Linked DNA regions of Homo sapiens: region 2 is linked to region 1. The links come from fine-mapping of genetic effects on gene expression. A gene starts in region 1. The other region holds a variant in brackets. All regions are shown on one strand. Distances are from middle to middle.

The links. PIP is the estimated chance that this variant, and not a neighbour inherited with it, causes the effect. A credible set is the group of variants that fine-mapping cannot tell apart.
Region 2: its variant is the best candidate, but not a certain one, in a credible set for the expression of DNAJC3 in whole blood (Lepik 2017, PIP 0.50).

The regions. Positions count from the first base shown.
Region 1 is chr13:95,675,441-95,678,350 of GRCh38, forward strand. DNAJC3 (DnaJ heat shock protein family (Hsp40) member C3) reads left to right here and starts at 1,699. Exons shown (of 12, transcript NM_006260.5): 1 at 1,699-1,897. The coding sequence starts at 1,816. It overlaps DNAJC3-DT (DNAJC3 divergent transcript), which reads right to left and starts at 1,485. Exons shown (of 2, transcript NR_132117.1): 1 at 412-1,485. RefSeq lists enhancers at 789-1,636, 900-999, 1,637-2,483, 1,830-1,879 and silencers at 1,520-1,759, 1,990-2,079.
Region 2 is chr13:95,826,619-95,829,528 of GRCh38, forward strand. The region is part of intron 38 of UGGT2 (UDP-glucose glycoprotein glucosyltransferase 2); the gene reads right to left. Among named protein-coding and RNA genes, the nearest start is that of DNAJC3, 150 kb to the left of the region's middle. The variant T/C (reference allele first, on the strand shown) is at 1,666.

The DNA of each region.
Region 1 (2,910 bases):
CTACTTTTTCCTTAAGGCCAGGGTCATAGGCAGCACACTGGTGATAACTCACTGTCTAGAAATATTGCATTTTGTTTACAAAGTTATTTTCTATGTTCAGCATTTTGCTGGCTGCCTTGGGTACAGTACCTCAATTGAATGTCTACACCTGCATATTTGTGGACATTGAAATCATCTACCATTTTTCAGAGACACTACCTTGTGATATAAAAAAACAGAAGCCAAAAAAAAAAAAATCCCAAGGAATTTCTGAAGGAGCCTCTCTTCACTACTCTGCTCTTGTTAGAATAATGAGTAACACTGGTATAACATTCTACAATTTACAAGAATATTTATCTGCTTCATGAAACCTCAAAACAAACCTTTGAGACTATCAGGATCCTAACCACTTTACAGATGAAGATAACTTACATAATAGTTATGGGGTTTCCTGGATCTGACTCCTTTATTCTTCACATTACATTATGTTGCCTTCCCCACAACTAATCAAGGACTCCGTTTTTTCTTTTTTCTTTCTCGAAACCATTTCCTCCATATTAGTTCCCTTTGGAATAGAAGCCTTTTTAAAAGTCCACCTTAGTATATCTTCAGGGAATCACAAATTCACTATGCTATTTATAATTCATGAGTTTCTCTAATGGTATCAAGGCAGCAAATACAGGTGAAGTAATAATTATCCACCTGATAGTACTTAACACACATACCCCGTGTAAAAATACTGCTGGTGTACAGTGTGTGTGTTGGTGACGCCGGAGGAAGTGGCCGTGAACAGGCTTAATGCCGCATTGAGTAACTTCAACCTCATCTTGCTCAGGTTCATATCTCTCCTGAATTTCCCCTGGTAAGCGCAAGATTCAGGATCCGTTCTCACAGTTTTTTGTTTACCAGTTGATGTTGGCTGCATTCAGGAACGCCTTGCTCTCTTAAGCCACAGTGCCTTCCTGGTCTCTTCTTCACAGGGTCTTCCACAATCGCTCTTTTTCCTGGGCACGGTGGTTTGCTGAAAGTCGGGGTGGGGGGCGGGGCGTTCCCAAGTTTCCAGGCCAATTACCTACCTGCCTTAGAGCAATTACGCACTTCTCTCTGGTAGTCCCTGAAATGTTCTAATCATCAGATCGCCCCAGCTTCTCCTGACCGTTTCTTGCTTACGGCTCAGTTCAGACAGTATTTGTTCCGGGACGCTCAGCGGGAGGCGGTTTTTACCGGCTCACTCGAGACCCCAATTCCAGGCGCCCTGCAGCTTCCCTCAGACTCCCCGGGACCGTGTTTGGCCTTCCCATTCGTACGCTGCGGCTGCGCTTTCCTCTCGTAACACCACGCTGGCGAACCTGGAAAGGATCAAATAGTCCCACTCGCCAACCTAGCGCGGCGGGACCGGCCCAAAAGGGCCTTTGCAGCCTGCGCATGCGGACTCGGCGGCCGCCACCGACTCCCCGTCTGCTTCCCTCCGGGCGGCAGCCGCGGTTTGGAGCTTGCTGACAGCTCTGCGACCGGCGGGCGCAGCCTCGTCTCGTGCTTCCACGTTATCCTATCAGGGACGGGGCGGGGCGGCGGCCTCCGCAGCCTATCAGCGCGAACCACGACCCCGGCGAGCCCGGGAGGAAAGCCGCCAGAAAGAAGGCGATTGGATGGCGGCGGCGCTCTGGGGCGTAGCGTCGCCCGGGCCCCGCCCACCGCTGCCTTCCTCTGCTGGGCTCCAGAGCCACTGAGGCCTGAGCGAGAGCCGACGGCGGGCGGGCGCAGCTGCTGCCGGAGCGCCGGCGCGTGCTGGTGGGCCACACACCTTTCCTCCTCTTCACTCGCGAGCCCTCGGACATGGTGGCCCCCGGCTCCGTGACCAGCCGGCTGGGCTCGGTATTCCCCTTCCTGCTAGTCCTGGTGGATCTGCAGTACGAAGGTGAGTCCTGCCCTGCCCCGGCCAGGAAGTGGGCTCCCGGACCAGGCCCCCCGCGCTTTCCCGTCTGCGCCCGGGCGCCTGTCCCGGAGCGGCTCGGGAGGTGGGGCGAGCGCTGGGGGAGCCCGCGGCCTGGCTTGGGCCTGAGCCCGCGCCCGGTTCCGGGTTTGTCTGGGGAAGAATCGAGGGGACTGGCGGGCCGCGGGGCCGGGACAGCGGGTTTGGACTAAGGAACCGGGCCGCAGGAGTCGGAGGAGGCGGGGTGCGGGGGCACCGGGCTACGACTTCAGGAAGTCCTGGGACGCGGAGACTTGGGCAGCCTTTGGGTCCTGGCCTCGCTTGGGACCCTCGCTGGGCGCCTGGGGACACTGTCAGTCATTGGTGCTGGCTGGGAGGAGGCACTAAGGTGGCCAAAAGACTTCCTTCGCTCTGGAGTTCTTGGGTGGGGAAGGAGTGTCATGTCCGGCTGGGAGTTGGAGGGGACAGTGTTGACTATTTAAAAAGTGTGTAACCATCCCCATTAAGATGCACTGTCGTGTAGAGAAATTGTTAGTTTGGTGCAATGAGGAGCCGCTGTTGGAATTCCATCTCCCGGACGGCCAGGCACTGAGTTTGTGGTTTTACAACTCCCAACATGGTGTCATTCAACGTATGGCTGGCATTACTTTTCCAAGTTCGCTGTAAAAAGGTTCCCTTAAAAAGATACGAACGATTAAATTTCACTTCAGTCCTGCAGACTGGAATGTTGGCTACTCCAGAATAGCGAAAATAGAGGGCTGTCCTATCTTAGATGGCAGCGGGGAGGAGTAAGAATTAAAGTTGATAGTGCCGATTTAACGAATGCTTCTGGCGCGGTTACTGTGCGAAATATTCGAGTGTAATGACACATCACATGCACTGATCTATTTTCATCCCCATAAAAAGGGCTAGTTGTCAAGGAGGTCAAATTAAACCTTTGAGTATTCCATTCAAAGGGAGCGAGGAACTAAAAATTGGGAATTGTTTATAGTGAATTC
Region 2 (2,910 bases), 150 kb after region 1:
GTAGCAAAGAAAAGCTTAAACTATATATATATATAAGCTATATGATTAAAATGTTATGATTCTTGAGGAAAACTGGACTTGAATATATAGAAAGACAATGTATTCTGAGACAGTAGTTTCCATGAAGATGTCAATTCTCTCAAGCCAACTAATTAATGTAATCCTTTCTCTGACCATCCCACACAGCCCCCCAAGAAAAACACAGAAAATTTTCTGAAACTAAGTTGATTCTAAGGCTTGTATGGAAAAAAAACAAGAATACACAGAAAAACAACAAAAAAGAAGAGTAATAAGGAAAGGCTAGCCTTACTTGATATTAAAACATAATATAAGTCCTTAATAATTAAAGTGGTATGTACTTGGCACATGTATAGACAGAGACCAATGGAACGGAATAAAAAGGGCCAAACAAGACATCCTAATATTGGAATTTAATATATGATAAAGATGGCAATACAAATGTGTGGAACAGAAATTAATTTCTTCCAGTGTCAGGCAACAATCCTCTAGAAAAAAACAGGCAAATGACAAGAACAGCGGAAGAAATACTAATGGCCTTTAAATATATGACAAGATTCTTAACTCCACCCATGTTATGGGTTTAATTCATATTTCAAAAATACATGAATTTTGGTCCCCACAAAATTTACAAGAATTCTAACTTCTGGTATCTCCAAATGTATCCTTATTTGGAGGCAGGATCTTTACAGAGGAAATCAAGTTAAAATAAGGTCATAAGCGTAGACCCTAATCCAATATGACAGGTGTCCTAACTGAACAAGGACAGAGAATGTGAAGACAATGTGAAGACACATAAGGAAAAGAAAGCCATTTACAAACCAAGGAGAGACGTCTGTGTTAAATTCTTTCCTCGCAGCCCTCAGAAGGTATCAACCCTGTGGACACCTTCATCTTGGACTTTCAGCTTCCAGAACTGTGAGACAATAAATGTCCAGTTTAAGCCAGCCAGTTTGTGGAACTGTGTTATAGCAGCCCTAGCAAACTAATATAATGAAAAAGAGAAATGTAAATTATAAAAGATATACTATATCTCAAGCCATCCTTATAGAGTTAAACAAGAATTCTGGACAGAAGTATGGTTAACTATTAGTCAGGCAGCACTTTGACCCACTTCCTTGTAACTGAAAGTTACTTAGCACTAGATACTGACCATTTGCATCCCCATTGTTCTTGTGGATGGGATTTCTGACATCAGAATCATAAGGCTTTTAAGAATTGCCTAAGCAGATCGTGAGTTCCAGCAGAACAGCTGACACCAACCAGTTTGAAGATCCCCACAAAGTAACCAATTCAGCATGAGAATATAGTTTCTTCATCTCCCTATACCACGACTTCACCTTGCACTCTTCGACCAATCAATGCTCTCCATACTCTGGCCCCCTCCAAAACCCTTAAAAATCACTAGTCACAAACTGCTCAGGGACACAGACTTGAGTTTTCATTCTGTTTCCTCATTTGGCAGCCCTATGATTAAACCTCTCTCTCTGCTGCAACCTGGACATATCAGAATCTCTGGGACACACTTAAAGCAGTGTGTAGAGGGAAATTTATAGCACTAAATGCCCACAAGAGAAAGCAGGAAAGATCTAAAATTGATACCCTAACATCACAATGAAAAGAACAAGCTAAGCAAGAGCAAACGCA[T/C]CCAAAAGCTAGCAAAAGACAAGAAATAACTAAGATCAGAGCACAACTGAAGGAGACAGAGACACAAAAAACCCTTCAAAAAATCAATGAATTCAGGAGCTGGTTTTTTGAAAAGATCAACAAAATTGACAGACCGCTAGCAAGGCTAATGAAGAAAGGAGAGAAGAATCAAATAGATGCAATAAAAAATGATAAAGGGGATATCACCACTGATCCCACAGAAATACAAACTACCATCAGAGAGTATTATAGACAACTCTACGCAAATAAACTAGAAAATCTAGAAGAAATGGATAAATTCCTGGATACATGCACCCTCCCAAGACTAAACCAGGAAGAAGTTGAATCCCTCAATAGACCAAGAACAGACTCTGAAATTGAGGCAATAATTAAGAGCCTACCAACCAAAAAAAACTCCAGGACCAGACGGATTCACAGTCCTATTCTACCAGAGGTGCAAAGAGAAGCTGGTTCCATTCCTTCTGAAACTATTCCAATTAATAGAAAAAGAGGGAATCCTCCCTAACTCAATTTATGAGGACAGCATCATCCTGATACCAAAGACTGGGAGAGTCACAACAACAAAAGATAATTTTAGACCAATATCCCTGATGAACATCAATGCAAAAATCTTCAATAAAATACTGGCAAACCAAACCCAGAAGCACATCAAAAAGCTTATCCACCATGATCAAGTGGGTTTCATCCCTGGAATGCAAGGCTGGTTCAACATACACAAATCAATAAACGTAATCCAGCATATAAACAGAACCAAAGACAAAAACCACATGATTGTGTCAACAGATGCCGAAAAGGTCTTTGACAAAATTCAACAGCCCTTCATGCTAAAAACTCTCAATAAATTAGGTATTGATGGGACGTATCTCAAAATAATAAGAGCGATTTATGACAAACCCACAGCCAGTATCATACTGAATGGGCAAAAACTGGAAGCATTCCCTTTGAAAACTGGCACAAGACAGGGATGCCCTCTCTCGCCACTCCTATTCAACATAGTGTTGGAAGTTCTGGCCAGGGCAATCAGGCAGGAGAAAGAAATAAAGGGTATTCAATTAGGAAAAGAGGAAGTCAAATTGTCCCTGTTTGCAGATGACATGATTGTATATTTAGAAAACCCCATCGTCTCAACCCCAAATCTCCTTAAGCTGATAAGCAACTTCAGCAAAGTCTCTGGATACAAAATCAATGTGCAGAAATCACAAGCATTCCTATACACCATTAACA